Linked DNA regions of Homo sapiens. The protein of the gene in region 1 purifies or fractionates together with the protein of each later gene. This does not show direct contact. Each region holds a gene or a part of one and is shown in the gene's direction. Other genes may lie near its edges.

Region 1 (3,500 bases):
CTTTATTTTGAGAAAAAGTTTTAAAATGTAATTTCTGCCACCTTTTTGTGTTTAAGTGACACTTTAATCTGAGAAGAACAGCGTTTACATTTAAGATAAATTTATATATATATAAATTTATATATTTGTTGGTATAGTCGTAAAATATCTCTGGAAGGACATGCAATAGATGAGTAACATTGGTTTCCTTGGGGGAGAGGAACTAGATGGCTGTGAAATAGGAGTGGGAGGGAGAGGTCACCATATAACCTTGTATGCTTCTTGGTCTTGTAATAGCTTTTTTTTTTTTTTTTTTCCAAGACGGAGTCTCACTCTGTCGCCCAGGCTTGAATGCAGTAGCGCAATCTCGGCTCACTGCAAACTCCACCTCCCGGATTCAAGCAATTCTTCATCTCAGCCTCCTGAGTAGCTGGGATTACAGGCGCCCGCCACCATGCCCGGCTAAATTTTGTATTTTTAGTAGAGATTGGGTTTCACCATCTTGGCCAGGCTGGTCTTGAACTCCTGACCTCCACCCACCTCAGCCTCCCAAAGTGCTGGGATTACAGGTGTGAGCCACCGCACCCGGCTGTAATAGCATTTTAACGTGCTCCTCAAATCACTCAATTTGACGCCTACTTCTCCCTATTTAAATCACATTATGTTATCAATTTTCTTCATGACTTTTCAATTCTTAATTGTGCCCTTGGAGCTTTTCTGAGCCCTGTGTCTGGGATGGAGATAAAATGGGGAAAGGGGAAGAGATTTCTCTCTCTCTCTCCCTCCCTCCCTCCCTCTCTCACCCTCTCTTTCCCACTCGCTCTCTCCCTCTTTTTCCTTCCCTTTATTCCATTATCCTCAGAGAGTAGTCAATGTTACATTAGCAGTGATGTGCACAAATAGACCCCATAATAAGTGCTTGCTTGGATGCAGAGGACCTAAGGAAAATAAAAGACACACTGTGAATGCTTAACGTTTAAACAGAAAGGAACTCCCCCACCCACCAAAGGACACTTATAAGCATTCCTCCCTGACAGGCCAGGGCAGCTACAAGGGAAGGTAGCTACAGACCTAACTCCCCAGGAAGGTTGAAAGCAGCCCCCAGACCCCACCACTGGAGCTGCAAGGCAGCGGGGCCAGGCACTTGCCTGCCACCAGTCTAACCTGTTTTGTCAGGCCAGGGAGCTCCCAGCTGTCTGTCTCTGTTATGTGATTAAGTGCCATCCTAAAGTTACTGGGCCCTACATGTCTTTGCAGCAGAAATAGAAAGTGTTTAGGGCAGGGAAAGTTGGTATAAACAGACTGTGCCAGTTCATTGTGGTTCTCTCTCAGATGTACGGTAGTTCCACTTCCCCCATAATGTTTTTGTGACAACTGATATGGATCCAAAATAATCTGACTCTGCCATGCTAACCCACCACCTGCTTCTCGCTTCCTCCTCCTCCACCACCCCATCACCTTTCCAAAAATATGTTGATCAGCCCCTCTAGGTTCTATGGGTTGTGGGCTCACTGTTGCTGTGGTGGAGCTGGATTGCTAAGCACAGCCTGAGAGTGGGCTCATAGGCAGAGTCTGAAGGGGAAAAAGATGACTCTTTGCGGTAACATGAAATTAACATTTGAACCTGTAAGCAAACATTTTGGAACCATCTCCTTCCTGGTTAATCAGGAGTCCCCCCTTTTAAGAGCCCCTCACTTTGGCCCCAGTTGGGAGCAGCTTCTGTATGGTCTCACTTTGGTACCAGATAACCCTGGGTTCAAATGCTGGCCCTGTTGCTTATAAAACTGTATAGCATTGGATAAACTCTCTGAGCCTTAGCTTCCTCTTTTGGAAAATGGAGATTATGTTACCTCACAGAATTGCTGTGTTATTGAGATATTCTAAAGGGTCAAGTGCAGTGTCTGACACTTAAGCACTTGGTAAATATTAGTTCCCATTCTCATTTTAGGCTTTGTGATTCTTTGGCAGGCTTTACTACTTGAGGTTTGTTCAGTAGTGGACTGTTGTAATTTTAAAATGCATTAGGACACAGTTAGTGGAAGTGAGGAAAATTGTATATTTTGGGGTGAGCTTTTGGTTAATACCTAGAAAAAAATTTACAACACACCTACCCTTTTAAAATTTTATTTATTATTATTATTATTATTATTATTTGAGACAGAGTCTCACTCTGTCGCCCAGGCTGGAGTGCAGTGGTGCGATCTCTGCTCACTGCAAGCTCCGCCTCCTGGGTTCATGCCATTCTCCTGCCTCAGCCTCCAGAGTAGCTGGGACTACAGGCACCCGCCACCATGCCCGGCTAATTCCTTTTTGTATTTTTAGTAGAGACGGGGTTTCACCATGTTAGCCAGGATGGTCTCAGTCTCCTGACCTTGTGATCCGCCCGCCTCAGCCTCCCAAAATGCTGGGATTACAGGCATGAGCCACCGTGCCCGGCCCACACCTACTCTTTTATTCAGCATTTTCAATTCTTGGACTTTCAGAAATCTATCAGAAATACTTGTGCTAGCATGTTGCAATATATAGACAGCAATATTTGTTGCAGTGGACATAAGTTGCAGAACTCATCAGATGAGACTGGTTAAATTGTAGCACATTCCCATTAAGGAATACTATGCAGCGATAAAAAGAGGTGTTTTGAGATGTCCTTTTAAGGCTACTGTCCACACATAATGTTGTGGAAAAAAAGCAAGGCACAGAACATCATGTATAGTATTATTCTATTTGATCTTTCAATAACTATATACTGTATATACACAAACATGATGTATGTAATTTATATATGATATATGTGCTTTTATGGAAGGATATGCAAGCTTTATCCTTTGGGAGCAGGATGAGTTGTTGGGAGAGAGAGAGGGGAGGTGGTACTTTTCCTTTATATTATTCTAAATGGCCTGAACTTTCTTTAATACTGACACATTACTTTTGCAATTTAAACATTATTTAAAAATGAAGCAAATAACTTATGTAGCAAAAAAATGCTTTATAAACAGAAGATTGTACTATGTGGTTACATAGCATTTTCCTTGGATTGTCGAAATGTTCTTTGTAAAGCGGTCTCTGGATATAAAGAATACTTTTACTTATTATTTGAAAGTTATAAATGGAAGTAAAATGTTTGTATCTTAAAAAATAGAAAAATGACATTTACTAAAAGCATTTCTTAGAATATTAAAAAGTTAACCTTTGTGGAACGCTGTAATTAGAAAAATCACAATTTTTCAACCTCTAGTGATAGTTTATTTAGACAAGGGTTTTCAATGAATTCCAGAATCCTAGGTGAAAGGTTATTGGGGAACATGGTACTTGCAAAGTACTATCACCCCACAGGTTACTTGCCTGTTGCAAAGAAAAGAAGGTACCTTTACAGTGAAGAGGTCTGGCAGTCACCATCTTATAAGCAAGTCATCAAATGTATCCTTGCTCATTGTGGGACTATCTAGTATCATGGTATACAGGAAGTGTACAGCTTTACCTATGTAGTATCCTTCCTGTATGTGTTTAATCTGAATCAAATC
Region 2 (3,500 bases), on another chromosome or scaffold:
TTTAAAACAATGAGATACCACCACACACCTGTTAGAATGGCCCAGATCCAGAACACCAACACCACCATTTGCTGGTGAACATGTGGAATTCTCATTCATTGCTGGTGGGCATGCAAAATGGTGTAGCCACTTTGGAAGACAGGTGAGCAGTTTCTTACAAAACTAAGCACACTCTTACCATGAGATCTGGCAATTATGTTTCTTGATATTTACCCAAAGCAGTTGAAAACATGTCCACCCAGAAACCTGCACATGAATGTTTATAGCAACTTCAGAATTGCCAAAACTTGGAAGCAACCAAGGTGTTCTTTATTTAGGTGAATGGATAAATAAACTCATACTTCTAGACAATGGGATATTATTCAGTGCTATAAAGGAATGAGCTGTCACATCATGAAAAGTCATGGAGGAGCCTGAAATTCATCTTACTAAGAGAAAGAAGCCAATCTGAAAAGACTGCATACTGTATATTTTCAACTATCTGCTGTTTTGGAAAAGGCAAAACTAAGAAGACAGTGGATTGGAGGGGAGGGAGGGATGAATAGGCAGAGCAGAGAGGATTTTTTGGGGCAGTGAAACTACTCTATAATGATGGTTACATATCATCATCTATTTGTCCAGACCCACAGAACGTACAACACCAAGAACGAACTCCAATGTAAATTATGGACTCTGGGTAATAATGATGTACCAATGTGTGTTATCAGTTGTAACAAATGTACACTCTTGTTGGGGATGTTGATAGTCGGGGAGACAAGACAGGGAACATATGCGAAATCTCTTCCTTCTGCTCAGTTTCATTGTGAACACAAAACTACTTTAAAAAGTAAAGTTTATTTTAAAAAGAGGAGGTCTTAGGACAGAACCTTAGAGAATTCTTAATATTGAGGAACTAGCCTTAGAATAGTTCTGCTCTTCCTTGTGAAAATAATTAACTTAAATATCTGCTCTGAATATAAAACTGAACATAAGCTGTTTTTGAGTAAATTTTCTGTAGGCAAATGATGAAATAATTTTTTTTTACCTGTTTTCTGATATAATGACCCTTAGCATTCATACTTTCAACAGTCTCAGCTTTGATACTCAGAAACAACATGGAGAGCCAGAGAATATAGTAATTTGTTATTTTGCTGAGGCACAAATTCAAACCACATTCACTTTAAGACTCCCGTTTGGGAGAGTAACTTAGCTCTTGAGCAAGCTTACCATTCCTTTGTGTTATCCTCTGCTCCTCATCTCTTACTTAGTGACACCTGAAGGATGTGAAAGAATTACGTATATTTGTTCATTAGTTTCATGCATATTAATTGGGAAATTCCATGTAGTATTGGTGAGTTTGAGGATTAACAAAGATTTGTATTGGGCCACATATCTTGAAAATACCAAGGATGTACTATGCCTATTGTAAATTAAATTTGGCTTTGTCTCCTAGCATTAGAATTTTTTATGACCAACACTAGGAGTTTAGTTATGATAGGGGAAAAAGGATAAATATTTGAGTACCTTGTTTATATAAGAATAACTTCTTTTTTTTCTGCTTAGGGAAGCATTCAGTGGAGATCTTAATAAGGATTGACTTTTCTTGGTAACAGAATTGATATCAGTGGTACATGACATCTATGCAGCCAGACACAAATCTGAACTCGTTGGACCCTAAATAAGTGTTTAAATATTTGTTATATTTCCCAAAATGATTGGTTTGTAAGATGGTTAATAGTAACTTATGCAAAAGTCCAGAAATTAGGTGTTCTTATTCACTGAGAAAAGTCTGCCTTAAAAATTAAACTTTTTTTTTCTGATATTAAGAGCACTATGAAAATATATAGAATAAAAAGTAGAAGCTATCTTCTGCCCACTGGGTAGAAGTCGGCTTATCCTACATTGGGTGTTAATCCTTACATTTTTCCATGCATTTCTATACATGTATGTACAGATGTACAAACATCATTTTAGGGTTTAATTTGTTTTGTTTTCCCTTAGTGGGGTAATACAATAAGTATTATTTTCCAACTAGCAGATTTTTTTTTTTTTTTTTTTTACTGCAGCATTTCTCAGAGTTTGCATTATGCCTTGTGCATTGTGAATCTCCAAAAATGGGATACATGATACTGCATTTGTCAACTTGACCATAGAAACCTCTTATCCAGGAGCCTCTTATAGAAACACTGGTTTGGGGAGTATTGATTTGCAGTTTTTGCCTAGTATCTGGGAAACAGGGTGGTGATTTTGCTTTATGATCCAGTTAATGGTGAGTCACTTTATAATATAAAATTATTTCACATTTGGCCTTTTTGTTTAGATCTGTTAGTCAAGTGTATTGGTGAAGAAACCAAGTATGAAAGCATCAGACTTCTGTTTGATGGCTTACAGCAACCAGTACTCAACAAGCAGGTAAAGCTCATTAAAGCTCGTAAACTCATGCTGGCTAGGTTTGGTGAACGACGTAGTAAGGTGTCTGGTAACTCATTAGTTGTATAAATGACACTATACTAAACCAAGGCAATATAATTTTAAACATTCAGATAGAAAAAAAGTTTTATTTGAGTTACTCTTTTTGTTTCAGTTTTTTCTAAATAAGATGAATTATTTTGATTTAAAATTAATATATAGTAATTGTAGAAAATTTGGCATAGAAAATTCATGAAATACAGTAAAAAATTAAAAATGGATAATTCCATTATTCAAGTCACATAGAATAACCAGTTAACATTTTTATGTTTATGGTTTATGTAAACTATGTATAAGCTTTATATATTCTGTTGAGATCTCAATACAGTTGTGATTTTGTGTTCTTGTTTTTCTAAAAATTCAAATATTTAACATAAAAATGAATTAATGAGGCATAATGAAAGTGTCCTCATGCAAACACATGTGTACTTATTACCTATTTTGAGAATAGAACATTATTGATACTACTGAGGCTACTTTTGTGCTTGTTTTATATTATCAGTCCCATTCCCTGCCTTCCCACTTAGAGGTAACCACAATCTTTAATTTTGTGTGTATCATTTTTATGGTTTTTGTGTTTAGTGCCTTAACATTTATTATTATTATTTTTTGGTGCTTTAGCTGACTTATGTTTTATTGGACATTGTGATACAGGAACTGTTTCCAGAGCTCAATAAGGTAACTGAAAAGCAGTAATTTTATTCATGATTTTCTTAATGGTATGCTGACATTTATTTTAATTAGGGACATAAATGTAAGAAAACCCTTGTCTCTGTTCTCTGTGGTTCTTTAAAAAATTAACCTCAGCAAATTGCCTTTTGTATTTTCTTTATTAAACATGCCCAAACAATTCTGGGGGACAGCTATTGAATAGCTTCTGCTTTGACTTCATCCCTTTTTAATTACAAGCAGATAGGGACCCTATATAGTCTTTCCAGGGGAAGAAGTGAGTGTAAGTCCTAGCACTAGAATAGGCCAAGCTCAGTGTTATCGTCTGCACCATTGTATGCTGTGTAAGTCAGAAACTAGAGTATTTTTGAAGCAAGTTTTAT
Region 3 (3,500 bases), on another chromosome or scaffold:
AGTGGGAGCAGGACCGTCTGAGTCCTAGGAAGTGACCGCACTGGGAGCAGGACCGTCTGAGTCCTAGGAAGTTACCGCAGTGGGAGCAGGACCGTCTGAGTCCTAGGAAGTGACCGCACTGGGAGCAGGACCGTCTGAGTCCTAGGAAGTGACCGCACTGGGAGCAGGACCGTCTGAGTCCTAGGAAGTGACCGCAGTGGGAGCAGGACCGTCTGAGTCCTAGGAAGTGACCGCAGTGGGAGCAGGACCGTCTGAGTCCTAGGAAGTGACCGCACTGGGAGCAGGACCGTCTGAGTCCTAGGAAGTGACCGCACTGGGAGCAGGACCGTCTGAGTCCTAGGAAGTGACCGCACTGGGAGCAGGACCGTCTGAGTCCTAGGAAGTGACTGCAGGGGGAGCAGGACTGACTGTGGGGAGGGCTGCAGGGAGGTTTCAGCTCTGTGTGCAGAGGGACATCCTTGATAGGTAGGGAGTTCCCCGTCCTGGAGGGTGTGCGAGCAGAGGCAAGAGATCGAATTTGGACAGGAAGGCCTTTCAGCCCTCCCAGGAGACCTCCTTTCTTTTTTTTCCTTTTCTTTCTTTTTTTCTTTCTTTCTTTTTTTTTTTTGTTTGAGATGGTGCCATGCTCTGTCACCCAGACTGGAGTGCAGTGGTGCAGTCTCGGTTCACTGCAACCTCCACCTCCCAGGTTCAAGTGATTCTCCTGCCTCAGCCTCCCGAGTAGCTGGGTTTACAGGCATGAGCCACCACACCTGGCTAATTTTTGTATTTTTAGTAGAGATGGAGTTTTACTATGTTGGCCAGGCTGGTCTCGGAATTCCTGACCTCAAGTGATCCACCCGCCTCAGCCTCCCAAAGTGCTGGGATTACAGGCGTGAGCCACCACGCTCAGCAATGGAGACCTCCTTTCTATTGCAAAAGCAAATAGTGTAGCGTCAGGATGGGAGTGGGATCAGGTACTGAGGTTGTCAGTTTCTGTTATTTCTTTTTTCTTTTAGTGATGATTCCTGCGTATTCCAAGAACCGGGCCTATGCCATCTTCTTCATAGTCTTCACTGTGATAGGTGAGTGCAGGTAACGTGGCCAGCATTTTGTGACAGGATCCCGAGAGCTCAGGGACCGATACACCCTGCTGCCTCCACGACCTGAAACTTCACATCCGTGTTTTTCACTCCAGAGATCACCCCAGGGATCCCCTGCCAACAGCTTTTAACCCCAGAGATCCCCCACCAACAGCTTCACCCGAGGGATCCCCCACCCCACGGCTTCACCCCAGGGATCTCCCGCCAACAGGTTCACCCCAGGGATCCCCCACCAACAGCTTCACCCCAGAGATCCCCCACCAACAGCTTCACCCGAGGGATCCCCCACCAACAGCTTCACCCCAGGGATCTCCCACCAGCAGCTTCACCCCAGGGATCCCTCACCAACAGCTTCACCCCAGGGATCCCCCACCAACAGCTTCACCCCAGGGATCCCTCACCAACAGCTTCACCCCAGGGATCCCCCACCCCACGGCTTCACCCCAGGGATCCCCCGCCAACAGGTTCACCCCAGGGATCCCCCACCAACAGCTTCACCCCGGGGATCCCCCACCAACAGCTTCACCCCAGGGATCCCCCACCAACAGCTTCACCCCAGGGATCCCCCATGCCACGGCTTCACCCCAGGGATCCCCCACCAACAGCTTCACCCCAGGGATCCCCCACCAACAGCTTCACCCCAGGGATCCCCCACCCCACACTTTCTGTTCTGTCCCCACCATTGACCTCGTCATCCTCCCACCTGTGACTGCGCTGGCCAGGCCATGTTTCCATTTGATAGGGGACGCCCCCGGCGCTGTGCTATCCTGTGCCGGCCACCCTTGCGTTGGTTTTGCTGCTGTACTGGTGGCGCCCCTGACCGTGGCTGTCTCCTCTTGAAGGAAGCCTGTTTCTGATGAACCTGCTGACAGCCATCATCTACAGTCAGTTCCGGGGCTACCTGATGGTGAGCGAGCTCCCCAATGCTGGCTGTGCCTGGAGCTGCCGGGAGGCCAAGCAGGGTGTGGCTTGAGATGAGCAGCTGGGTGACCCTTGCTGGCCAGGCCCCTGGTGGGACGGGAGGGCAGGGTTGCCACCTCTTGTGGATCAGCCGGGGATGCACATGTGTTGTTGCTCTAGCCACTGCCAGAGATGGCAACTCCCAGGACAGCAGACCCTAAACCCTCTTGAGGGGGAGCTGGGGGCGCCCCCAACACACAGAGGAGAAACGCGGCCCAGCATATTGCGCAGCACGCCCGTCAGACTCCTTCCTGTGCGGCCTGTCCCGGGAGTCTGACCAATCCTCTCATTCCTGGGGGGTGAGGGGCTGCCCCCAGGCTGTGGGGAACTGGGCCCCCCCCCAAGGCTGCCCAGACTCCCCCTCTGCCTGTTCCCCAGGGGAGGGAAGGGTCGGGGGTTCTGAGCTGGGGGAGGGCTGATCCTGCCGTTCATAGCCTTCCTCTTTGCAGAAATCTCTCCAGACCTCGCTGTTTCGGAGGCGGCTGGGAACCCGGGCTGCCTTTGAAGTCCTATCCTCCATGGTGGGGGAGGGAGGAGCCTTCCCTCAGGCGTGAGTGCTGGGCATGGACCCTCTTCTCCCTGAGGGTGGGTGCTGTGGCTGCTGGGCAGGGGCCGGGTGTTCATTAGGGGCTTCTTGTGCTTGGCCTGTGCCTCGCCCCTGCTGGCTGGCACCCGACTCATGGAAACCACCATGTCCCTGGCGCTCTGTGGTTCCCGGCGTCCTTGTCCTGAGTCCATGCCTTTGTCTTCGTGCCCCCCGGGGACCCTGGGCTGGTGAAGGGCCGAGTGGCCCGGCCTTCTTGTCCCCCTTTGTGCTCTTCTACCCTTCTGTGCTGACTTAGGCAGCAGAGCCAGAGGTGCGTGGGCCAGGTGTCCACACCACCATCCTGCTTGGAAATGAGGGCAGAGAGCTTGAGGGACATTGCAGTGGAAAGTTCTGGTCCTGACTGCTCATAGTGGTGAAGTCAGTTTGCGCCTTCTCGGGGGGACGGCAGTGGCAGGATGCTCGTTACAGGGGCTCTTGGTGTGGCTCAAGCTGCAAAGTGGCTTCATGGCAAAGCTCAAGCCAGACGCCAGGGCAGGAGGACCCAGGCCAGGGTTCCAAGGGAGCCGAGCTGGCTGTGCTCACCGGGCTGTGGGTTTTTCCCTGCAGAGTTGGGGTGAAGCCCCAGAACTTGCTGCAGGTGCTTCAGAAGGTCCAGCTGGACAGCTCCCACAAACAGGCCATGATGGAGGTACCCGCCCCCTGCTCCCAGCCTCCTCTGGGCTCCTCCCGGGAGGTCACTTGGGCCAGCAGCCCCTTTTCAGGACTAGGGGTGTGGCTTCAGGTCACCTGCAGCATTCACAGCCCGTCAGGGTGGGGTTGGGGCTGGGGGCGCTCACCTTCGAGGGCGCTCACCTTCCCGTGCGCCCCTGCTGACCTGTGCTCCTTCCTGTGCAGAAGGTGCGTTCCTATGG
Region 4 (3,500 bases), on another chromosome or scaffold:
CATTAAGCATATACATGAAACATGTAATTGCCTTAGAGTTTTCACCTAATGATCTAAAAAAACAAATGGAGGAAGATTAAAATATTTTGAGTAGACATAAAAACCACACAGTCTTGATGCTTAAAAACATGATTTGCAGGCATAGCTTACAGTATTTTTCTTTTTAAATTTAGCAATTCATGATGACCAATAAACTGGACACGGCAATGTGGCTTTCTCGCTTGTTCACAGTTTACTGCTCTGCTCTGTTTGTTCTGCCTCTTCTTGGGTATGTATTATACATATTGCTGCCTTTGATATTCAATTGTTGAGTCAGTTTATATGGAGTGCCTTTTAGGTGTAAGACTTATTAACCTGTAAAGGGTTTAGGGACAAATAAAATACAAGTTCCAGCCTTCAGGTACTAACAACCTAATAACATTATCAGAGGAATATTTTATATCTTGTGCTTTGTGAAACTAACACATTGAAAATCCAAGGAAAAATTGATGTGTGGGAATGAGATAAGTTCATGTTTTTTTCATTTTTACTTATTACTTGACAGGAAGGTCCTGCTTTATAAAATTCAATTTTATAAATTGATTATAAGAAATTCAGTTGGGCATATATATGAAGTGAAGCTATTAAAACGGTAGAATAAGTTCATGTAATTTTTTTCTATTGACAAGTGATTTAGGTGTTGTGCAATTATGATGCAATTCACAAAGGAGGAAGAGACACTGCAGTTGTTTATGTCTCATGATAACCTCTCCTCTGGTAATTTGCAGGTTGCATGAAGCAGCAAGCTTTTACCAACGTGCTTTGCTGGCAAATGCTCTTACCAGTGCTCTGAGGCTGCATCAAAGATTACCACACTTCCAGTTAAGCAGAGCATTCCTGGCCCAGGCTTTGTTAGAGGACAGCTGCCACTACCTGTTGTATTCACTCATCTTTGTAAATTCCTATCCAGTTACAAGTATCCTTTTCTACCTTGTTAACAATGAAATTGCCAACTAAGCATATAGGAGATCTCTTCTGATTATTTCAGCAATGAAGGCATTCCATGAAGCCTGGGTTTGTTCTCGGCACTTCATTTGAATGAAGATATGTTTAGTGTAAGAATTTCTGACTTTAAAATGTGAAATCTAAACTTTGAAGAGCTGATTTAGGAATTTTAAACTATCTTTGTTCTTGCCTCTTGTAAGCTTCCCTATTAGAATGGATATTTTCAAATTCCCCTTCGAAGCACAACCTTACGCAGAACTTACTTTAATATTTACATTTTTTTCATTTAATTCACGTTTTTGGCAAAGTGTCCAGATGTCTTGCTTTAAAAAAGAGAGGTCCTCAGCTCTTTCCATCTTAACCCCAGTGAACTAGATACAAATGGAATTTAACCAAGAAACAACTTATTTAAGCAGGTAATGAGATAATCAATACAAAGAAATTAATATTTGCTGTGTATAGAGTAGAAAATAAGGACACACATGGATAATCCGTGAAGCTAATGAGAAATAATTCATTTGGAATTTGTATGTTTTCACATTTCAAAGGTGTGTTGTGGGATGATACTGGGTAGTCCATAAAGGAGGGGAAAAATGGGGAAGAGGTTCTATAGTGAACACTAGGTTAAACTTTCTTTTTTTTTTTTTTTTTTTTTTTTGAGACAGAGTCTTGCTCTGTTGCCCAGGCCACCTGCCTCTGCCTCCCAAAGTGCTGGGATTATAGGCGTGAGCCATCACGCCCAGCCAGGTCAAACATTTTTAAATAGGGTTCTTTACTATAGTGGCTTTGGTATTCTAACGTGTGTTGTGAAACTAAGAGAGTTAGTAGGGTTTTTTAAACTTAAATTTGTGGTTGTTTTTTTTCCTGTAGATTATCTCTGCAAATCATTTTGTGCATTGAGAAGTGCTGGTCTAAGAGCTTTTGAATATTTATGATACATCTGTATGTTATGTAAAGCACAATAAAATATTCCTCTGAGACTGAATATTACCTATTTAGATACCTATGCTCATGAAGTATCAAATTTTTAAATAGATTTTTATAAGTCTTAAGGAAAAGAAATAGGAGGAAACCGAAATTTCCTGAGCACCTATTTTGCCAGTATAAGAACTTGAATTTAGGCCAGGCGCGGTGGCTCACGTGCGGTGGCACTTTGGGAGGCTGAGGTGGGCGGATCATGAGGTCAGGAGATTGAGACCATCCTGGCTAATATGGCGAAACCCCATCTCTACTAAAAATACAAAAAATTAGCTGGGCATGGTGGCATGTGCCTGTAGTCCCAGCTGCTCGGGAGGCTGAGGCAGGAGAATCGTTTGAACCCTGGAGTGGAGGTTGCAGTGAACTGAGATTGTGCCACTGCACTCTAGCCTGGGCGACAGAGCGAGACTCCTTCTCAAAAAAAAAAAAAAAAAAAAAAAGAACTTGACATTTAATCTTTGTAGCACTCTGAAAAAAATTGTTGTGGTATATTTTTAATAAAGATGCTGATTTGCTGATTGTCAGTATTCACTTCCCACACATTGGCTAGTAAGTAGTAATGCTGAAAAAGTCTTTCTAACTTAAAAGCTCTACCTTATCTACAGTTAGTGGGTGAGTAATACTTAAGTATACATTAAAAATATTTCTTTCTGTATGTGGGTAAACCTGGTAATTTCATTTAAATATTCAGTATATGGAGATTCCCTTTAAATTACTCACTTCACTGAGATAATGTGGGTAGTTTGAAATGTAAGGATAAAATTTTTCCTGTTTCAATGCATGAGTCTGTAATGTCCCATCATAATTTGTATTGGTTTATTTTTAGGTAAAACTCATTAAATGATTACTATACTACAACTGTAAATGATAATCACATTTGTTTGGCATATTATTGGCTTGACCAGCCTCTGTTGATTGAAGTGCTTTGCAGTCACCAATGTTAAAATTCTAGCCTTTCTGAGCTATAACGGGAAGTTATGTAGAGATTTTTGGTCATGCCTTTTAGTAGCTTAAAATTTCTTTGGAGGGAGAAATAGAAATGACAGAAAATGTGTTTCAATGTAGGGTAAACTGAATACGTCAATAACTTTGGGAACAGTGCCTCACACAGATCAGGCACTCAGTAAGTTTTGTTGAGTGAATCCTGAGGTCTTGCCAAATGAGACTCATGACTGGTGAAGAAAACCTTTCTGCCTTTTTATACAGTTGGTTATTTGGTAGCCCCTCTTTCCTGGGAATGTTGAAGATTAAGGATTTCATATTCCTTAAATTCTTACAAAGGGAATGTAGTAAACAGTGGGAATAACATAAACTAGTAATTGGCAGCAAATGCTAATCTGATTATTAAAGTGATATGGTAATAAATAAAAGCGGGCCCAAAGTAATATTACAGATTTGCGTTCTGATCCTTCTTCTTATAAAAGTGATATTTTGTCCTTGCTTGATTAATAACAGATAGGGCATTTCACCTCTTATCTTTTCTAAATACATTGTATTAATAGTTTAAGAGTAATGTTGAAGACTAAGATTATGAATCT
Region 5 (3,500 bases), on another chromosome or scaffold:
ACCACCGCACTCCAGGCTGGGCAATAGAGTGAGACCCTGTCTCAAATAAAAAATAAAACAAAATTGAATGCCTGTGAAAATAAAATAATAAAACAGAAAATTGAAGCAGACATCCAAGATGCTCTCACTGCCCATCTAAGACCTCAAACCTGCCTGCATCTGCTTGGATCCTGTTCGGCTTCCCACCTGTTAGGATCAAGGCTTGTCCACCTCCTTGCACTGGTGCCCCTGTGTCTCCCTCTTCACGGGCTTTGTCTATCAGGTAACATCTGTCTCTACTGTAATTGCAACCTTTCTATGTATCCTACACATCTCTGGCTTATTTCCACCTAAAATGACCCCCAGCTGCAGCCCTCCCTGGGCCCTCTCCCTACCCCCATATCCTACCCAGGTGGTACCCTATCTCTATTCTCTCTGTATATTGTCAGCCAGGCTTCTTTATCACTGCTGTCACCACCAAAACGATTCTTGCTGGATTCACAGCTGACTCGATGCTGTTAGTGTCATGAACGCGTTAGTCCCGGTAGTGCCATCCTTTCACATGGGAGCCCTCAGTGGCATTATCACATTTGTCCAATCTCTGCCCCTGGCTATGGAGACTCCACGCTCTCTGGGCTTTCCTCGTGTCTCATCAGCTGCTCCTTCTCATTCTTCCCCAACTATCCTATTCTGCTTGCCTTTTTTTTTTCTGCTTAACTTTCTTGACTTTTTATTTTTTTGAATAGGTAGTGCATTTATATATGATTTACAGTTCACAAAGATGTTCCAAATTTTGTCAGTTCTAAGATGAACATTTTGATATTTCTGAAAACATTTTCATGTCTGTGTTTTAAAATTTCTGGCATCTTACAGTTACAAATTGGCATTTTTATTTTTATTTTTTGGAGATTGAGTCTGGCTCTGTCACTCAGGCTAGAGTGCAGTGTGGCACGATCTCAGCTCACTGCAACCTCTGCCTCCTGGGCTCAAGCGATTCTCCTGCCTCAGCCTCCTGTGTAGCTGGGATTACAGGCGCACGCCGTCACACCCGGCTTATTTTTAGTAGAGACAGAGTTTCACTGTGTTGGCCAGGCTGGTCTCGAACTCCTGACCTCAAGTGATCCGTCCATCTCGGCCTCTCAAAGTGCTGGGATTACAGGCGTGAGCCATGGTGCCCAGCCTGCAAATTGGCAATGTTTTTTCTTACTTTTGGTCAATAAAATAATGGTCTGTCTTAAAACTGATGATGTCATCAATTATATGGAAATGGTATAAAGTTATATAGTAAATATTCTGCTTCCCACCTACTCTATATCCATTCAGTTCCTTTGTTCCCCAGAGAGCCACAATTACCATATTTTTTTCTTGATATCCTTCCAGAGATTCTTTGTGCATATATTGTCAAATACAGATATGTATATTTCCCCCCACTTTTTATTTTGAAAAATTTCAAAGCTACAAAAAAGTTTAAAGAATAGGGCAATGGGCTGGGCACAGTGACCTCATGCCTGTAATCTCAGCACGTTGGGAAGCCAGGGCGGGTAGATCGCTTGAGCCCAGGGGTTTGAGAACAGCTTGGGCAATGTAGCGAGACCTCGTCTCTACAAAAAATAAAAAAATTAGCTGGGCATGGTGGCGCACACCTGTATTCCCAGCTACTTGGGAAGCTGAGGTGGGAGGATTGCTTGAGCCCAGGAGTTCGAGGCTGCAGTGAGCTATGATTGCACCGCTGCACTCCAGCCTGGGTGACAAAGTGAGACCCTATCTAAAATAAATAAATAAATAAAATAATGCAGTGAACAACTGTATACCCTTCTCCCATCAATTATTAACATTTTGCAACATTTGCTTTATCTTTTATTTTTACTTTTTTTTTTTTTGAGATGGAGTTTCGCTCTTGTTGCCCAGGCTGCAGAGCAATGGCGTGATCTCCGCTCACCGCAACCTCCGCTTCCGGGGTTCAAGCGATTCTCCTGCGTCAGCCTCCTGAGTAGCTGGGATTACAGGCATGCACCACCATGCCCGGCTAATTTTGTATTTTTAATAGAGACAGGGTTTCTCCATGTTGGTCAGGCTGGTCTTGAACTCCCGACCTCAGGTGATCCGCCCGCCTCGGTCTCCCAAAGTGCTGGTATTACAGGCGTGAGCCACCACGTCTGGCCTATTTTTACTTTTTAGAGACAGGATCTTGCGTTATTGCTCACTGAAGGCTCGAACACCTGGGCACAAGTGATCATCTTGCCTTAGCTCCTCATGTAGCTGAGACTACAGGCACACACCACCATGCTTGTTTCTGCTTTATGTATATGTATAAAATTTTTTCGCAGAACCGTTTGAAAGGACGTTACAGACCAGACACTGCTTCTAAAGACCAGCGTGTGTCTTCTAAGAACAAAGGTGTTCTACAGGCCGGCATGGTGGCTCACGCCTGTAATCCCAGCACTTTGGGAGGCCAAGGCGGGTGGATCTCTTAAGCCCAGAACTTCAAGATCAGCCTAGGCAACATGGCGAAACCTTCTCTCTGCAAAAAATACAAAAATTAGCTGGGCATGATGGCACACACCTGTAGTCCCAGCTACTCAGGAGACTGAGACTGGAGGATCTCTTGAGCCTGGGAGGTTGAGACTGCAGTGAGCTGTGATTGTGCTGCTGCACTCCTCCAGCCTGGGTGACAGAGTGAGACCCTGTCTCAAAAAAAAAAAAAGAAAGAGAGAAAGAAACAAAAACATGCACACATACAATACCCAAGAAATTTAATAGTGAATAGTAGTATCTACTATGCAGCCTATATTCAAGTTTCTCTAGTTGTCCTAAAAATGTCCTTTATAGCTGTGATTTTAAAATCCAGGACCTGGTTGGGCGCGGTGGCTCACGCCTGTAATCCCAGTACTTTGGAAGGCGGAGTTGGGCGGATCACGAAGTCAAGAGATGGAGACCATCCTGCCCAACATGGTGAAACCCAGTCTCTACTAAAAATACAAAAATTAGCTGGGTGTGGTGGCGTGCGCCTGTAGTCCCAGCTACTTGGGAGGCTGAGGCAGGAGAATCGCTTAAATCTGGGAGGCAGAGCTTGCAGTGAGCCGAGATCGTGCCACTGCACTCCAGCCTGGGTGACAGAGTGAGGCTCTTGTCTCAAAAAAAAAAAAATCCAAGATCCGGGCCTGTAATCCCAGCACTTTGGGAGGCCAATGCAGGCAGATCACCTGAGGTCGGGAGTTTGAGACCAGCCTGACCAACATGGAGAAACGCCATCTCTACTAAAACTACAAAATTAGCTGGGCGTGGTGGTGCATGCCTGTAATCCCAGCTACTCCAGGCTGAGGCAGGAGAATCGCTTGAACTTGGGAGGCGGAGGTTGCGGCGAGCCACGATTGCACCATTGCACTCCATCCTAGGCAATAAGAGCGAAACTCCGTTTCAAAAAAAAAAAAAAAAATTCTGCCAGGCTTCCCCATTGCATTTGGTTGCATGCCTCTTTTGTCTCCATTAATTTAGATAAATTCCCCCTGCCAATTTCTGTC
Region 6 (3,426 bases), on another chromosome or scaffold:
GTTATGCTTGTCTAAGATGAATGCTGGTCTTGCTCTGAGTGGACGTTTTTAATGGAACATGTTTAAGTCCTTCAGATGTGCACAAAGACACTTAAAGGTATTCCAGCTGTTCTTTCACAGTGCTGATAAAGCCACGGCTCTCTATTCTGTCTCTAGTTAGACTTAACAAGCATAGTTAAAAACAAGTGTGCTCCTAGTCCAGCCGTCCATCCTGCAGATGGCATGTCACTAGTGATCAGCATTTAGTAAGCCTTTGATTCTGTGACTTGAGAAAGTACATCTTTTATTTTCCAAAATTGGGGAATTCACAGTGATTAGGATGCTAGGCAGTAAAATCATTTTCCATTTTCTTTACTTGATGTCTTGACATCCTGTTTCTGATTAGACCACTTGTTTTTTGTGGCAGTTTCATTGATTGGAGTGCAACATGCGAAGGCCAGTTTTCCAGCGCATACTGTCCATTGGAATTGAACGATTACAATGCCTTTCCAGAAGGTAAGGGCTCTTCAGACAATCCCAACGCCATTATTTTATTCTTAGAAGGTCAAAGCAGGAAGTGTGTGGACTAAGAAGAATCCTTTTAACAGCGAGCAGACTTTGAGAATGAGCTTGCAGTAGACTGCCGAATGGCTTCATGTGGATCCAGTTGTGCACTGATGCCATATATAATTTTATATGACCCTCAAAAAGCCCTCAATTTTGGGTGTCTGGGGGCTTCAAAAATAACCCTAATCCATTTAGTCCTTCCAGTTAGGTAGAACTAGGTCATTTGGATCCATGTAGATGTAACATTGTTGGGTATCCATTGGGAAGCCGGGGCTTTAGCTGCTCGCTCTTCTTTTTAGGCAGTCAAGTCCCATGTGAAATAGAAACATTGGCCTGCTTCCTATTATGTCCTTAACTTCTCTGCCCTTGGGTGGTGCTGCAGAAGGAAGGAAAGAAGCTTGGAGGGGAAATTGTGGAAAATTGCAGATGCTTGGGCTCAAGCATCTGTAATAATAAAAAAATGAGAGCTATGGGATATCCCTGGTCAACTGGAAAATGCTCTATTGTGCACTACTGTTGGATCATGGTTTCTTATACTAGAGCTGCCCTTTCAGGGAAGGGATGTATCATTCTTATCTAGATTTTGATACATGCATTGCTCCATGCTAACCACAAGGGGGTGCTTTGGGAATGTTATGATTGTGAGGGTCTGTGTTCATTATGTTCTTAATGGTATCTAAGGAGTCCTTGGTTTTGGATTGCTGTATCAGCCCAGATGATATATGTGTAGGTCGCTGAGGTTGGCATGACAGGTAATAAAAACATTTTAAAGACTGGCAAGAACCTTGACACTATTTAGATATCTAGTAGTATTTTAATGTATTTTGTGTAATAGAAAGATTCCCATCAAGTGATCAAATAGAGAAAAACAAGCCAGGAGGAAGACCTTCCACATTGAGGGCTTCCCAGGTTGTGTGTCTGATAAAAAGTTTTAATCTTGAGAATGATGTTGCAACGACTCTCCTGGTCCACACGGACCAAGTATTTATGTCTGTAACTTGTCAGTATAGTGAGACCTTGAAAGCTTTTTTGCCTGAGAGTGAGAATTCAGTTCTCAATGAAAATGTTTACCTATGATGATATTCTCCCATTCTTTGTAGAAAACATGAACTATGCCAATGGCTTCCCCTGTCCTGCAGATGTTCAGACAGACTTTATTGATCACAACTCTCAGTCTACCTGGAACACCCCACCCAACATGCCTGCTGCCTGGGGACATGCCAGTTTCATCAGCTCTCCGGTCAGTGTTGCCCATCCTGTGCCGTGAACCCCTGGGCAGCTCTGAATTGTTTCCACTGCTTCCTTAATCCTGGTCTCAGCTAGCTTTAGCGTTGGGTTTGGACCAGCCAAAGCCTGGCTTGCTTCTTTTAGATCACAGAAGCCAGGGCTGGCCACCCTCTGAAGGAAACTGACATGTAATAATTAGATGGGTGGGGTCTTGCAGACATTGACATTCTGGCCACCCCAAATGAAAAACATCCCCAAACACACCAAGCAATGGTCCTTTGTAGATAAAATTGAACATGGGCCAGCCCTCTGTGTGACACAGCTGTCTTTATGTGGACTCACTGATCTTTACTTCACCGATACGAGATGAAAGTCCCAGGAAGGTCAGTGGGTGGTCAGGGTCCCAGAGCTCCCTGCCTGTGAGCACACCCTCCCTGCTCAGAAGCCCGATGGCTTCTCCTTTCACATCCGCTTGACACTTGTTTTTGTTTTTTTCCAGATAAAGGGTATTTGGCCTGTGGGTTCTTCCCCGGGTTGCAAATAAGTTCATCCCATTAGATGAGGATTTCACAATCCTCCCTTTGAGAAAAAATGGAGTTAAAGCAACCCAGATTTAAATTGAGAGTAGTCTAATAACTTCCAAGTAACTTGATAGCATTGTAGTATTCGCTGATGTGTATTCACCTTTCTAAGGCTTTTTTTTTTCTTTTAACTTATTTTTCCTTCCTCATTTATACTTCAGCCCTACCTCACAAGCACCCGAAGCTTGTCTCCAATGTCTGGACTTTTTGGTTCCATCTGGGCCCCGCAAAGCGATGTGTATGAAAATTGCTGCCCCATCAACCCCACCACGGAACATTCGACCCACATGGAAAACCAAGCGGTCGTGTGCAAGGAATACTACCCGGGGTTCAACCCGTTTCGCGCCTATATGAACCTGGACATATGGACTACCACAGCGAATAGGAATGCAAATTTCCCACTGTCTAGAGACTCGAGTTACTGTGGGAATGTGTGAAAATAATTGGATTTTTAAACAATGTGAATAAAGAGGCTTGTGTTTTGATTACTAGTGTAAACTGGTTATTGAGATAGATTATGACATTGGTGGATATTTTGGCACTTTTATATGAAAATAAATTTTTTAATGAAATCTGGGTGCTCTGTTTTTTTTAACTCTTCATAAATCAGTGGTAAAAACAAAGCATCCATATGTCAGAACTTTCAAAAGTCAAGAAGTGTGTCAGGCATGCCGAATGTTTTAAATCTGAACACGGGAGACGTCTTTTTTTTTTTTTTTTTTTTTTTTTTGAGACAGAGTCTCGCTCTGTCGCCCAGGCTAGAGTGCAGTGGTGCGATCTTGGCTCACTGCAACCTCTGCCTCCTGGGTTCAAGCAATTCTCCTGCCTCAGCCTCCTGAGTAGCTGGGATTACAGGCGCACGTGTGCCACCACGTCCAGTTAATAGAGATTTTCAGTAGAGACGAGGTTTCACCCTGTTGGTCAGGCTGGTCTCGAACTCCTGAACAAGGGAGACTTCTAAGAAGGTAGGAGTTGAGCAAGAAATGGCTGCTATGGTTTTCCTCCTCCTGAGCATCACAACCATCTGGGGAGCTTTCAAAAAATGAAGTTGCTCAGCCGTTGAGAACTGCTG
Region 7 (2,778 bases), on another chromosome or scaffold:
ACACACAATACATGCACACACATAATACACATGCACACATACACGCACACATATACACACAGAGTTTTGCATATAATTTCGGCGGCTTTGTGACTCTTCCCTGCCCATCTCCCCTGCCAACCCTGACGAAGAACCTCTGCTCCTCGGCTCTGGTTGGGCTTCCTGAGGCTGTGGAAAGAACAGGGCACTAGAGTCAGACAGAGCAAGCATGGCTTAGAATCCCAGCTTCTCCACTAAGAAGCTGTGTGACCCTAAACAAGTTATATAACCTTGGTTTCCTCATCTATAAAATGGGAATTATAACATCCACCTGCTGTGGAAATTAATGAGTAATGCATATAAAATGTCTGGCCCACTAGAAATGCTCAACAATATTAGTTTAATGAATGCTTAGTCTCGACTGCCAGGAGTGAACTTGAGGACATTTCATGAGCCGTTAGGGGGTCAGCTCCCCTCACTGATGTCCAGCACCTGGCCCAGGGTCAGCTACACAGTGGGTGCACATCTTCAGTGGGGTGGGTCCCCCTCTCCCAAAAGGTGGCCACCTCTGGCTGGGAGCTGGCAGGACCCTTCTCAGCCAGCAGGGGGCAGAGTCGGTCCACTGGACCCTGGCCGCCGGCTCAGGCTCCCTGTGGCCAGATGCCAGCCCTTTTCCCTGCAACTGGAGAGATGTGAGGAGCAGAGGACTAGGGCAGGGACTGTTGTCCCCAGAGCACTGGTCCTGTCTGGGTGTCAAGGCTCTTCCCACAGCTGACAGAGCCTGTGATTGGAGCTGGGAGGATAAGGCTCCCTGGAGCCCTTCCTGTCATTTTGTTCCTAAGCCTCTTAACCCTACACTGGGAACTCCTAGATAGGCAGGCAAGCACTCAGCAACAATTGGCTTAGGGGATGAATGGGGAGATGGAGGCACAGAGGCAGAGCCCAGATTCCCTCTCAGGTCTCCAGTTCCCTAGACCAGGCCTCTCCCCAAAGGCCCCAGGTCAGCAGTGTGGTAAGCAGGGATCTAAAGGCAGGGCGTCCTGCGGTCTGGGCCACGTGTGTGGGAGGACGCTGCCTTTTCCTCAGACTCTCCTTTCAGGGAGTGTGCGGGTCCCTGCTCTGGTTTGAGAGGGAACCAACTACTCCTCTGGTCTGTGCGGCACCTCCTGTCTTGGGGCCCATACCCCTAGAGTGCCCTGGGCATGGGGACCCGCACCCACTTTGAACCTGGTATTTCTGGCCAGGTCCGTGGGCCACATCCACAGGCGAGTCACTGACCACCTGGGTGTCGTCTACTATGTGGGAGACACTTTCTCCGAAGAGTACACAGGCTCCAGCCTCAAAACAGTCGAGCGGAATGTGGAAGATGATTATATCGCCAACCTCCGGAACAACTGCTGGAAGGAGAAGCAGCAGAGTGAGTGTGGGGGGAAGGCGGGGGCTGTATTTGGGAGGTGGCTTGGGATGAAGCTGGAAAGCAGGGGAAGGAGAGAGCCCTGCTCACCCTGTGCTCTGAGGGCCCAGCCCCTGGCACTGCCCTGCACCAGCCACCTCCCAGACAAGAGCTGGTCTCCACTCCTGTGTTTCTCCGGGGCTGGGAGCCAGGGGCCACCTGGTAGTTTCCTCAGGTTCCCGTAAATCACTGCCATCAGCCCAGCATGTTGGCTGCCAGAGGTGAGTGTGTAGAGATGGACTGGAGCGGATGGATCCCTGGCCACCCCCTGACTGTGCTCCTGGATCTGTCTGTGGGACCCTGGGGAGGCCTGACCAGGATGACAGGGTCTCACCTTGGCTGGCCTCACTGCATTCTAGAGAAAGGCGCCTCTGTCACCCTCGCCCACATAAGGACTGTAGTCTCTGCTCCTCCATGGTCTTCCTAATGGGAGGCCAGCCCTGCCCAAGCCCCGGGCATGTACCAGCTTTCCTCCGCCCTCCACAGCCCTCGCAGGCTTCCTTGCAGGCTTCGGGAGGTACTGGGTGTGCACTAACCCTGTCCCATTGCTTTGCAGAGGAAGGCTTGCTGTACCGGGCACGCTACTTTGGCGACACAGATATGTACCACAGAGCACAGAAGATGGGCACCCCCAGCTGCAGCCGACTGTCAGAGGTGCAGGCCTCCCTGCATGGATAGTCCTGGGCCAGCCACACCACCGAGGTCCAAGTATGAGCCAGGGCTGCCTCCACCCTGCAACTCCTGGCAGCTTTGGCCCTGGTCATGAGCAGAGGAGGGAGGGGGAGAAAGGGAGGAAGCCTGGTGATTGTGGCAAAGACTCCTGTCCCCAGCCTGACCTCCAGCCTCCAGAGACCGAGCAGCTGTGGGGCCTGCTGGGAAACCAAGGTCGGTTTCCGCCCTCTAGCGATGCTGTCCTCCCCACTCCTCCGCTCTGCTCCCTGGCTCCAGGGGTGTGGGGGACCCCAGAACCAGGCAGAGTGGGAACTTGAAACTGTTGCTGAGGGCCACCCGGGGCTTCTTGGTCCACTCCAGCCATCAGTCAGCACGGCCCTTTCTCCAGCACAGCAGACTATTGTCCGTGCCCTGGTATTTAGGCCATCACATATGGTGGGGCCCAAGAGAGCCCCATATGCACACTGCCTGCCTGATACCAGGAAGAACCATGTGGGAATAGGTGGGCCAAGAGCCCTCCCCTTTCTCCATCCCTCCAGCTAGGAGGAAATGGAGCAAGATGAACAGGCAGCCACGAGGTGGGTGGGAGCTGGCAGTCTTGGTGGCGGCAGGGGCCGCGGGCCCTGACCACCCCCCTCTGGTGGGATCTGAGGCACTCTCTCGAATGCCGTCAC

What was found.
Region 2: the proteins of SLC9A7 (region 1) and SNX14 purify together in Homo sapiens (affinity purification with mass spectrometry; one large-scale study listed by BioGRID and IntAct). This does not show direct contact.
Region 3: the proteins of SLC9A7 (region 1) and TPCN2 fractionate together in Homo sapiens (co-fractionation; one large-scale study listed by BioGRID). This does not show direct contact.
Region 4: the proteins of SLC9A7 (region 1) and TMEM33 purify together in Homo sapiens (affinity purification with mass spectrometry; one large-scale study listed by BioGRID and IntAct). This does not show direct contact.
Region 5: the proteins of SLC9A7 (region 1) and SCAMP5 purify together in Homo sapiens (co-immunoprecipitation; one study listed by IntAct). This does not show direct contact.
Region 6: the proteins of SLC9A7 (region 1) and TMEM131L purify together in Homo sapiens (affinity purification with mass spectrometry; one large-scale study listed by BioGRID and IntAct). This does not show direct contact.
Region 7: the proteins of SLC9A7 (region 1) and DNAJB12 purify together in Homo sapiens (affinity purification with mass spectrometry; one large-scale study listed by BioGRID and IntAct). This does not show direct contact.

What each region holds. Positions count from the first base shown.
Region 1 is NC_000023.11:46,752,619-46,756,118, reverse strand, and holds part of SLC9A7 (sodium/hydrogen exchanger 7), read left to right. Parts: intron 1-3,500. UniProt on the Homo sapiens protein: Golgi Na(+), K(+)/(H+) antiporter. Mediates the electoneutral influx of Na(+) or K(+) in exchange for H(+). May contribute to the regulation of Golgi apparatus volume and pH.
Region 2 is NC_000006.12:85,506,859-85,510,358, reverse strand, and holds part of SNX14 (sorting nexin-14), read left to right. Parts: intron 1-1,542; coding exon of another isoform or gene 1,543-1,589; exon of another isoform or gene 1,590-2,039; intron 2,040-2,045; coding exon of another isoform or gene 2,046-2,083; exon of another isoform or gene 2,084-2,299; coding exon 2,300-2,391; intron 2,392-3,069; coding exon 3,070-3,126; intron 3,127-3,500. UniProt on the Homo sapiens protein: Plays a role in maintaining normal neuronal excitability and synaptic transmission. May be involved in several stages of intracellular trafficking. Required for autophagosome clearance, possibly by mediating the fusion of lysosomes with autophagosomes.
Region 3 is NC_000011.10:69,069,432-69,072,931, forward strand, and holds part of TPCN2 (two pore channel protein 2), read left to right. Parts: intron 1-998; coding exon 999-1,064; intron 1,065-1,924; coding exon 1,925-1,989; intron 1,990-2,491; coding exon 2,492-2,592; intron 2,593-3,195; coding exon 3,196-3,277; intron 3,278-3,483; coding exon 3,484-3,500. UniProt on the Homo sapiens protein: Intracellular channel initially characterized as a non-selective Ca(2+)-permeable channel activated by NAADP (nicotinic acid adenine dinucleotide phosphate), it is also a highly-selective Na(+) channel activated directly by PI(3,5)P2 (phosphatidylinositol 3,5-bisphosphate).
Region 4 is NC_000004.12:41,938,429-41,941,928, forward strand, and holds part of TMEM33 (transmembrane protein 33), read left to right. Parts: intron 1-173; coding exon 174-268; intron 269-767; coding exon 768-955; intron 956-3,500. UniProt on the Homo sapiens protein: Acts as a regulator of the tubular endoplasmic reticulum (ER) network by modulating intracellular calcium homeostasis. Mechanistically, stimulates PKD2 calcium-dependent activity. Suppresses the RTN3/4-induced formation of the ER tubules.
Region 5 is NC_000015.10:75,002,063-75,005,562, forward strand, and holds part of SCAMP5 (secretory carrier-associated membrane protein 5), read left to right. Parts: intron 1-3,500. UniProt on the Homo sapiens protein: Required for the calcium-dependent exocytosis of signal sequence-containing cytokines such as CCL5. Probably acts in cooperation with the SNARE machinery.
Region 6 is NC_000004.12:153,633,786-153,637,211, forward strand, and holds the end of TMEM131L (transmembrane protein 131-like isoform 1 precursor), read left to right. Parts: intron 1-406; coding exon 407-495; intron 496-1,646; coding exon 1,647-1,786; intron 1,787-2,515; coding exon 2,516-2,791; 3' UTR 2,792-2,926; downstream 2,927-3,426.
Region 7 is NC_000010.11:72,335,142-72,337,919, reverse strand, and holds part of DNAJB12 (dnaJ homolog subfamily B member 12), read left to right. Parts: intron 1-1,223; coding exon 1,224-1,396; intron 1,397-1,988; coding exon 1,989-2,110; 3' UTR 2,111-2,140; exon of another isoform or gene 2,141-2,778. UniProt on the Homo sapiens protein: Acts as a co-chaperone with HSPA8/Hsc70; required to promote protein folding and trafficking, prevent aggregation of client proteins, and promote unfolded proteins to endoplasmic reticulum-associated degradation (ERAD) pathway.